Regions from separate parts of the Homo sapiens genome. Here region 2 is linked to region 1. Evidence: fine-mapped expression QTL. Tissue or cell type: whole blood. Region 1 holds a variant in brackets; the other region holds the start of a gene. All regions are shown on one strand. Distances are between the middles of the regions.

The links. PIP is the estimated chance that this variant, and not a neighbour inherited with it, causes the effect.
Region 2: it holds the start of TM9SF2, and the variant in region 1 is fine-mapped to the expression of TM9SF2 in whole blood (TOPMed, PIP above 0.99).

The regions. Positions count from the first base shown.
Region 1 is chr13:99,462,816-99,468,041 of GRCh38, forward strand. No RefSeq gene overlaps it. Among named protein-coding and RNA genes, the nearest start is that of LNCARGI, 33 kb to the left of the region's middle. The variant C/T (reference allele first, on the strand shown) is at 2,724.
Region 2 is chr13:99,499,466-99,504,691 of GRCh38, forward strand. TM9SF2 (transmembrane 9 superfamily member 2) reads left to right here and starts at 2,007. Exons shown (of 17, transcript NM_004800.3): 1 at 2,007-2,312. The coding sequence starts at 2,142. It overlaps LINC00449 (long intergenic non-protein coding RNA 449), which reads right to left and starts at 1,598. Exons shown (of 2, transcript NR_133664.1): 1 at 930-1,598; 2 at 258-475. RefSeq lists enhancers at 1,713-1,892, 1,799-2,387.

The sequences.
Region 1 (5,226 bases):
GTCCAGAGTTTGTTCCTTCTGATGTTCAGATGTGTTCGGAGTTTCTTCCTTCTGGTGGGTTCGTGGTCTCGCTGGCTTCAGGAGTGAAGCTGCAGACCTTCGCGGTGAGTGTTACAGCTCTTAAGGCGGCGCGTCTGGAGTTGTTCGTTCCTCCCAGTGGGTTCGTGGTCTCGCTGGCTTCAGGGCGATGCACAACAAACAAACATTAATTGCATGGATGGATGGATGGGTGGATGGATGGGTGGATGGATGGATGGGTGGATGGATGGATGGATGGATGGATGGGTGGATGGATGGGTGGATGGATGGGTGGATGGATGGGTGGATGGATGGGTGGATGGATGGGTGGGTGGATGGATGGGTGGATGGGTGGATGGATGGATGGATGGATGGATGGATGGATGGATGGATGGATGGATAGATGTGTGGGTAAGTAAGTGACCATATGAATCAATGGATAGAAGGGTGGATTGATGGATGGATGATTAGGATCCACTTTCTGTGTGTAGCTATCCCTCTGTGATTTCCGCATAAGATCTATGTTATGGGCTAAATGTTTGTATCCCCCACAAAATGTATATGTTGATGCCCTACCCCACAATATGATGACATTTGGAGGTGGAACTTTTCAGAGGTAATTAGGCCTAGATTAGGCCACAAGGATGGGAGCCACATGGTGAAATTAGTGCCCTTATAATAAGTGGGGGCACCAGAGCTTTCTCTCTTCCCATTTACATAAACCAAGGAAGGGCCATGTGAGCACACAGCAGCAGGAAGGTGGCTGTCTACAAGCCAGGAAAGAGCTCTCAAAAGAAGCAGATCTGCTGGCACCTTCCCAGGCTACAGAACTATGAGAAATGAATGTCTGTTCCTTAAGCCATCTATGGATAGAGGGATAATCTATCCACCTGGTTAACACCTTCCAGTCTATGGTATTTTGTTACAACAGCTCAACCTAAGGCAATCTGCTTCTGCCTGTAAGTATACTTCTGCATCCAGCTCCAAATGCACATGTGACTGCTTCTGTTCTGTGTGCCTGTGTGTCTGTGTATGTTTCTCCTTCTTCTGCATGTGGTTTCATTGAAAGGGCCAGTAATACTTTAGGCATTTCTGTAAAACAGTTATGATTATGGCTCCTATCTTATAAGATTGTTATAAGTGTTTGATATGATTATTATTTTATACTTATCACTATCGATCAGTAGACTTGAATTAAAGAAGTTCAAATTTATTTTGTCTTACATTATTATTCATAAAGGCAGTTTTAATGGTTAAGACTGGGTTTGTATCTCAGCTTTACCCACCATTCATCTATCTATCTATCCATCCATCCATCCATCCATCCATCGACAGCCTCAGTTTTTCCATCTGTAAAATGGACACAATAAGACTATTTCCCTAATAGCATAGAGTGAAATAATCCATGTAAACTGCTTAGTACAATGTCTAGCACATAGTAAGCACATACTGTATGTCAGCCAATAGAAAGAGCGGAGTTCAGTGGGAAATTATAGTACTTGAAGGGAGAAAAATCTACAGATACAGGTCATGATGAGGATGCAGTGGTGATGACTCTGCAGGCATCTTCCCAAGGCTCTGACTCCTCATGGGAGGACGGGGAAGACAGGTCACACTGAGTCTGTAATGGAAGGCATTCCCCACCCTCCACCCCAATAGATGGGATCGATGGTCATGGGTGTCGAGTGTTGCCTTTCTTCAGCGAGCAGGAATGCTGGCTTGTAGCCCTGTGGCATCTCTATGTTGAATGTCTCCCTCCAGAACTAGTTTGAACACTGATTCGTTCTGTGAGGACAGACCTCTGTGGATCCTTTATTGCGTTTTTCAACTGAATTTCTTAGCACATTCTTAACAAAACTGAAAGCAGATGTCTGTGTTTATAAAGTAAGATGAACTAGACACAGGAAATGTATTTACAAGAAACGCTAACGTATCAAGTTGAGGAAGGAACTTGTTCTCTTCTGTTTTTACGAAGTGAGAAGGTTAGAAGGTCAGCCATAGCCTTGTGTCTGGTTTTCTGGGGTGCCCCTGGCACTCTTGTTGGGGCTTCCTAATTCCTGGATCCTGTCCCTGTTGTGTGCAGACATGCATTTCTGTGTTGTTTCGAAGAAAAAACTGTTATTAAAAGACAATTTGGCACCATCTCTCAGGTTCAACTACCTGCATTTTCCTCCTTTGTCCCCCTCTCCACGATAATGACTAGAGGGTCCTGAGGTAGGTAATGACCGATGGGCAGAAGTGGGGAGAAAGGCCAGGGAAGCTAAGTCGTCATACCACCTGAAGATTCTGTCTGTATAAGCCCTTCTCAGCGCTGGGGCTGATGGCCACACCTGACATCCATCCTCTCCTCAAGGAACCTCGAAAAATCTCTAGGGTGTGTGCTTTTTGCCTATTGATAATAATAAAAGTGTAAGCAGGACTGTGATCCTATTACAACAGCCAGCGTGTATGGAGTCTTTCCCATGTGCTGGGATTACACTAAGTAAGAACTTTGCAAGCATTCTCTCAGGCCCTCTCTTTCAAGACTGTTGGTAATCAGGGCTCCTATCAGCTCATTGGCGTTGTTACAGCTGTGCCACTTGTTAAAACCTGGAGATGATGCCTGAACACATCAAGTGCCTCCAACACACCCATTGCTCTGGGCTGAGGTAGGGCGTTCTGAAGGGCTGCCCTGGTGTCTACCCCTCTCCAGCAACATTCTGGGC[C/T]TCCAACAGCTCCCATCTGCATTTGACACTCCCCCAAACAGACTGGGCCCAGACCTTGGAGGGGGAGAGGCCACTCTGGAACCCCAGTGGGAAAAGCCCAGTGCCCACCTGGCTCTCTAAGCTGTGTTTACATGCCACCATCTGGTGCCCTCTGTAATTACTACAGCTGCTTATTAGAGCAGCCTCCACAGTGTAGAATACAGCATACAAAATATTTTGAATGTCACCTTGCCTTTCTTTTGCTTTTTGCATCAACTACAACAGAATTAAGGCAAAATCAACTAAGCGTTTTCTAAAATCTCCCCAGAAATTAAATGTTTTTCTTTTAAAAAAAATTTTAAATTGTTTTATATGTTGTTCAAGCTAGTCTTTTTTTAAAAAAACTTTTATTTTAGGTTCAAGGGTCCATGTGCAAGTTTGTTATATAGGTAAATTCCATGTCATGGGGTTTTGGTGTACAGATTATTTTGTCACTCAAGTAATAAATAAGCCTAGTACCCAATAGGTAGGGTTTTGGGGTTTGTGTGTGTTTGTTGGTTTTTTTTTTTGGTTTTTTGTTTGTTTGTTTGTTTGTTTGTTTGAGATGGAATCTTGCTCTGTTGCCCAGGCTGGAGTGCAGTGGCGCATTCTCGGCTCACTGAAAACTCCACCTCCCAGGTTCAAGCGATTCTCCTACCTCAACCTCCCAAATAGCTGGGATTACAGGCATGCGCCACCATGCCCAGCTAATTTTTGTATTTTTAGTAGAGACAGGGTTTCATCATGTTGGCCAAGCTGGTCTTGAACTCCTGACCTCAGGTGATCTGCCTGCCTCTGCCTCCCAAAGTGCTGCGATTACAGGCGTGAGCCACTGCGCCTGGCCCTCAATAGGTAGTTTTTTGATCCTCACCCTCCCCCAACCCTCCACCCTCAAGTAGGCCCGAGTGTCTGTCTTTCCCTTCTTTGTGTCCGTATCTACTCACTCTTTAGCTCCCCCTTATAAGTGAGAACATATGGCATTTGGTTTTCTGCTCCTATGTTAGTTCGCATAGGATGATAGCCTCCAGCTCCGTCTGTGCTTCTGCAAAGGACATGATCTCATTCTTTTTCATGTCTGTGTAGTATTCCATGGTGTACAGGCACCACATTTTCTTTATCCAGTCTACTGCTGATGGGAACAGGCTAGTCTTGAACACAGGCTGTAGCTATCTTCCCTCCTCAGCCTCCCAAAGTGCTGGGATTACAGGCGTGAGCCACCACACCTGGCCTTTTTCATTTTTAGCTATTGTTTTAGAGACTTTGTTTGTACATATCCATAATTATTACACAGTTGTAATCACGGAAAAGTTTATTTTTTAAATCTTGCTTCTTTCATGGAACATTATGACATAAGTATTTTCTCAAATTGTTACAGATTTCAAAATTATTATTTTAATAATTTATCAGATCCCACTTGGAAGGGATCTCATAAATCAGAGATCTGATCCCATACATTTCCCCAGCAGGTATTAGCTAGCCAAAGTTCTCCTGATGGGCCAAATTCATAGTCCTGAAGAAGAAATCCCTGTAGAACGTCACAAGCAGCCATAATTACAATGTTGCCAAGACACCTGGTTCTTTGCTTCTACATTGTTTGTTTTACTGCCCTTTTCTTGGGGAAGCTCAATGCCTGCGTTACTTTGAAGCTTTTGGTAGAGGTACTAAGCCTTCAACTAAAGCAAGGCAACTAGAACAAGCTGTTAGTTTTGAAAACACAGCCTGTCCACTAGGTTCCAGAATGAGGCCACTAATTTCTCAGAAACATCACTTCATGATCTCAAGGAGACTAATTTGTTGATTTATGAGAACATTTTTAAAAATCGGGTCACCCTTTCCCATGCCCTAAATCAATTGTCACTACACTTTGCCATGTCTTTTTTCAAGTCAGGAAAGTAATAAAGAAAAATAAGAGAACGCTTGAAAACACTTGATATTCAGCACACTTTCCTGTGGCTAAGGTTTTAGATTTTTTTTTTTTTTTTTGGTAGAACATAATATTATCCCATGCTTAGCTTGCTAAAGGCAATTTAGCAGCAGGATTTACCTAACAGAACAGTTTTGGCTTTATCTAATTTTAGGTAATTACCTCTCTTTTCAAAGCTCATTTCTCTTGTGCTTTTGCTGGTCTTGATGTGTCACACAACAGCATTCACCCCCAGGATCTACTGCTCTTAAAGCAATAGAAAGAACAGCTCAATTTCCTTTATCAAATATCAAGCATGAAATATAGGTCCACGTGTAAAATAAGGAATTTGATACCAGTCATAAAAATCTACCCACAAACAGGTGGAGAATAAAAAAAAAAAGCAAAATGCCTAGATCAATAAAATATTTCATAAACCCAAGCAAACACTAACATTACTGAGAGCTGGATATCTAATCTGAGTCATTACCCAAATAGGGCGACTCAAGCTATGTTCACCCAATCCTGGATATTTTCATTCGAAAGGCAAGGCTTTCCTGGAACAAGGTTTGCTAATGCCTT
Region 2 (5,226 bases), 37 kb after region 1:
GGAGGTAGGTAGTGAGGAAATGAGAAATTTAGGTTCTTCTCCAGGGTTGGGGCCTGAAAAGAGATGGGCAGCGATGCCGTTTCCTGGAAAACTGGGAGAGGAAATGTTTGGGATGAGGGCAGTGAGATATAATGAAGGTCAAGTTTTTTTTTTGTTTTTTTTTTTTTTTTTTTGAGACGGAGTCGTGCTCAGTCGCCCAGGCTGGAGTGCAGTGGCGCGATCTCGGCTTACCGCAAGCTCCGCCTCCCGGGTTCACGCCATTCTCCTGCCTCAGCCTCCCAAGTAGCTGGGACTACAGGAGCCCGCCACCACGCTCGGCTAATTTTTTTGTATTTTTAGTAGAGACGGGGTTTCACCGTGTTAGCCAGGATGGTCTCGATCTTCTGACCTCGTGATCCGCCCATCTCGGCCTCCCAAAGTGCTGGGATTACAGGCGTGAGCCACCGCGCCGGCCGAAGGTCAAGTTTCAGTGGTGCTAGGAAAAGAAGATAGTGAGCAAAAATGTTAATTTTTGTTTCCTCCTCTTAATATTTGGAGAAAACGTCTGCTTCCTTTTGTTATATTGGAAATCTCCATGACTTCCAAATACAGAATATTTTACAATTTTTCCCTATCCCAAAGTTCAGCGAATATGTTGATTTATTTGAGGGAGAGGACATGAAAGGGAAGCCACCTAGGCACAATTTTCTGCTCAGGCCCTACCAGATTAGTTTTTGTTATCAAAAAAAAAAAAAAAAGTGCCATTCCTTGGGCCAAGCTATGTGCTCAGCACTTTCCCTCCATTTTTGATTTAATCTTCACAACAACCTTAAGATGAACGTTCTTTTCTACTTCCCAGTTCTCTTGATTAACTTGGCTACCCCACTATATGGATCAATTTGCAGGGTCCTAGGTCCCTTTGAAAATCTGATGAAAGTTATAAACCTTACCTGGGAAAAAAGTACAAACACCCGCAAGAACTTGAAATAGGAGTTCACTGGCCCTCAACTTTCTGAGCTTACTATTTCACAAACCTGCCTATTCTTGAATTCTGAGCTGGAGGTCATGATTCTCTCTTATGTACTTTAAGATGATGCACTCTTCCGAAGTTTTTGATTGAACTCTAGTGGCTAACTGAATTGACTTTTTCAGATCACTAAAAAGCTTCTCCTTGAAAAATACTCAGAAGATGCAACACACACACACACACACGTGTGTGCACTTACACACGCGGACACCGTCTCACATCATCAGTGGGAAAAGTGATAGAATCTTGCTAAAGGCTGATCATACCATATTAATCCGATTCGCCAGAACTACTTTCTTCACTGAGCTCTCAGGTATGCTCGGGTCTTCCTTTAAAGAAAATAAATGTCAACGCTACACTCTATCCTACTCCCATTTTCCTCCTCACCCCATTTCCACTCTCCCTTAAAGAGATGTGTGCACACAATCACTGCCCAATGCAAGAATGCACCACTGCATCCAATGCTTGGAAATTGTCCGTGAAGATGCCTTTGAGTAGCTGTCTATTTGAGGATTTGTGGCTAATTCCTCCCCATTTGTTTCCTTAGCCTGCTCCCAACCAGGTGTCTCCAGAACTTTTTCTCTCCGCCACCAACTCCGCCTCCAGACAGACCGCAGGTGCTTTCTGTCATAGGGACTGGCGTGCCGCGGACAGTGTGACAAAGAAACTGTATGATGGATATGAGAACTTCGTAAGACCCAGCAGCAAACGGGGAGCGGCTGGCGAGCGCTCCACAGCCCCCAAGCGTGGGAGCTCTAGATCGGAATTTGTAATTTGGAATTGGAACGTGAGCGCCGGAACAGCTCTCCCAGCAACCACCTCTCCCAGCAACCACCTCAGCTGGCGCGCGGAAAACCCGGAAAGTGGATTTCGCCCCCGCTCCCTCCCGGAAACTCCTCCTGGTGCCTGCGACCGTTCTCACTGAGCATGTGCAGACGGCGGTGCGCATGCTCTGTTGCGGTCCGCTTCGGTTTCTGTTGCGGGACCCGGGGTGTCTCCTAGCGCAACCGGAACTAGCCTTCTGGGGGCCGGCTTCCTTTATCTCTGGCGGCCTTGTAGTCGTCTCCGAGACTCCCCACCCCTCCTTCCCTCTTGACCCCCTAGGTTTGATTGCCCTTTCCCCGAAACAACTATCATGAGCGCGAGGCTGCCGGTGTTGTCTCCACCTCGGTGGCCGCGGCTGTTGCTGCTGTCGCTGCTCCTGCTGGGGGCGGTTCCTGGCCCGCGCCGGAGCGGCGCTTTCTACCTGCCCGGCCTGGCGCCCGTCAACTTCTGCGACGAAGAAAAAAAGAGCGACGAGTGCAAGGTGGGTGAGGCCTGACGAGCCCTCTGATGCACTGTTGGAAGGGGAAGTCGTCCCTATCCGGGGGAGCTGATCCTCGGGTGGGAGCGAGGGAAGGGGGCGTAGCAGCGGGTGGGGTTGAGTTTCCCCAGAAGCTTTTGGGGTCTGCTGGGCTGTGGGTGGGGGGCTCTGAAACAGCCCTTGCAAGGGTAGTTTCTGGAGGACGCAGTGGGCCTCAGACTCGCCTCCCGTCTTGCGGGCCAAGTGGCACGAGCAGCTGTATTCAGTTTTCCTGGAACAGGGACCGTGTGGAGCGCCCTTGGAGTTGGGCTTCACGCCTCAGAGCTTTGGAGTTGGATGTATGCAGGTCCACGCGTGAGTGTTCGCTCACAGCCCTGTAACATGTACGCTGAGGAAGCGGGTGACCGACTCCCTACATGTGAGCAACACTCAGCCTAGTTAACAGTTTCCATTAGCTTTTAACTTCATTGCTTCCTGTTTAATTGCATTTTCCTGGAACCTTCTAGTTGGTTAGGAGAGCTTGTTCTTTCTAGGACTTTGATATCTCGCTTCACAATTAGAAGTTGGTTCCTTATTTGTGGAGTATAACACCCAGAGCCACACAAAGTGCATTAATAAAGAGTTGCTGTAATGGTTGAGGCACTTGATTTCTGAGTTTTAAGTGTAAAAGATTTTAATACACAAAAAAAGATACGAGGTCTCACTATTTTCTCTGAGATGGTTTTAAACACTTAAAAGGGGCAAATGGTGGGAGAAACTGGTGTTTTCCTAGGGCAAGTCTTGAAAACTTTGATCTCTTACAACATTCACACTCAAGGTTTTCAGTTTAATTGCTAGTAAAAGAGGCGTAAATAAAGTAACCTGCTTTTAGGTTATATGGTGTAGGGCTTTACAGTATACATACACAATTATTTCGTTAAGTTTATTTAAAACTTAACATTTGGGGGATGAGGATCTCTTTGAAACCTTTAATGATTTCAACAATTCAAATAATCGTTCAACAAACGTTTACAATCTATAAATAGGCTTATTTATTAAGTTTGATTTTTTTAAGCTGGTGTTTATTACAGTTAGCTTTACTATAGCTGTGAATTTTGAGGTTATTTTAGGGCATTAGATAAGCTTTAAATTTTTCATAACATTTTGCAGTTTCTTTTTAGGTTGTCAGCTATCTTGAATGACATGTTTATACATCTGTGCAAAACCTTGTATCTGAAAAAATATCTAAGGATATTTAAGGTTTACTCAAGTCTGCAGTTAGTGTTTCAGTACTTAAGTTCATACTCTGCAGTGCAAGAAGCTTTCACTCCTTTTTGAGGATTCTGACTGAAAGACTGTTGTTGTGCTTCCAAGTGGAAGATCTAGACTTGCAAGTACACTGGTTTTTCCATTAAATATTTTAGTAACCAACCTTTAAGGCCTAGTGTTTGGTCTTACTTTAACAGCAGTTGTATATTCTATTCCTAGTGCCTCAAAGATGAAAAATATATTTCCTGCCCTCTGGGAACCTCAAAGTAAGGGACATAAGCTTATGAACAGATTATTGAAATCTGATCTGTTACACAGGATGATGTCCAAAGTGTGCTAAAACAAAATGAGGAAACATCAGTGGACTAGAGTCTTTAGGGAAAGCTCTATAGAAGAAGTGACAGGGCCAGGTGTGGTGGCTCACGCCTGTAATCCCAACACATTGGGAGGCCGAGGCGGGTGGATCACCTGAAGTCAGGAGTTTAAGACCAGCCTGGCCAATATGGTGAAACCGCGTCTCTACTAAAAATACAAAAATTAGCTGGGCGTGGTGGCGGGCATCTGTAATCCCAGCTACTCGGGAGGCTGAGGCAGGAAGAATCGCTTGAACTCTGGAGGTGGAGGTTGCAGTGAGCTGAGATCGCGCCATTGCACTCCAGCCTGGGCAACAGAGCGAGACTTTGTCTCAAAAAAAAAAAAAAAAAAAAAAAGAAGAAGAAGTGACATTTGAGATGGACTTAGAAAATGAATAAGTGAAACTTATAGGTGGTCTTCCAGTTAGATGATTGTTTTCTCAACAGGTCCTTTGGTAAGTGGCTAGGTTGTATTCTAGTTATTTTTTAGTTAATCTTGGGAGTCATTTTGGATGTTTAATTTTCATAGGTATAGGGATAAAACAGGCAGAGCAGATCATTTTTCCGAAATGTTTGGATTTTTATCTTTATTGCCAGCTACACTCACATCTGGTTAATGGAAACAACTCTTAGAAGAGCAGGAGGGTGTACTTTCAGCTTTTTTCCTGCGATATGACTAACTGGTGTAGAGAATTTGAAATACACTTTAATATTTATTTTCTTTGCCTTTCAAAGAAGATGCTATAAATAACAGTAAACAGTTGAAATTTGTATTACTTCAATCAGGATGTTAATAATTTATTCTCATCTATTTCGTATTTGTTAAGGAGGACAGTCTTGTACACATTATTCAGAAAAGTGGAAGGAACTTCTTTTAAAAATTAGAAATGAGAGTTGTGAAATGGAAATAATTTTTTCCAAAAGATGCTGTTAAGTTAGTGAATCTGAAGTTGGAGAAATTGGGCAGGTCATTGATACTGTTACCAACAGTTTTTCCATCTGTAAAATAGGGATAATCATATTTGATTATGACATATTCCCCTTGAAAGGTATTTTGCATTTCTTAGAGGAAAAGTGCAATATTTGTCATTGTTGTGATAGTGTAGAGATGAAACAAATATATCTTCAACTTATATATAATTTAGGTAGTAGAGTGTTTTTATGTACTGTAAAGTTTGTCTCATGCATTTAGCTCAGGATGTAAATTGAGAGAGAATCAGAAGAATGCTGAGGATTTAGTAATTTTCTCTCTTTAAAAATTATCTTATGTTGAATTTACTGGCAGAGAAACAGGAGTCCAGTGAATATAAAATTCT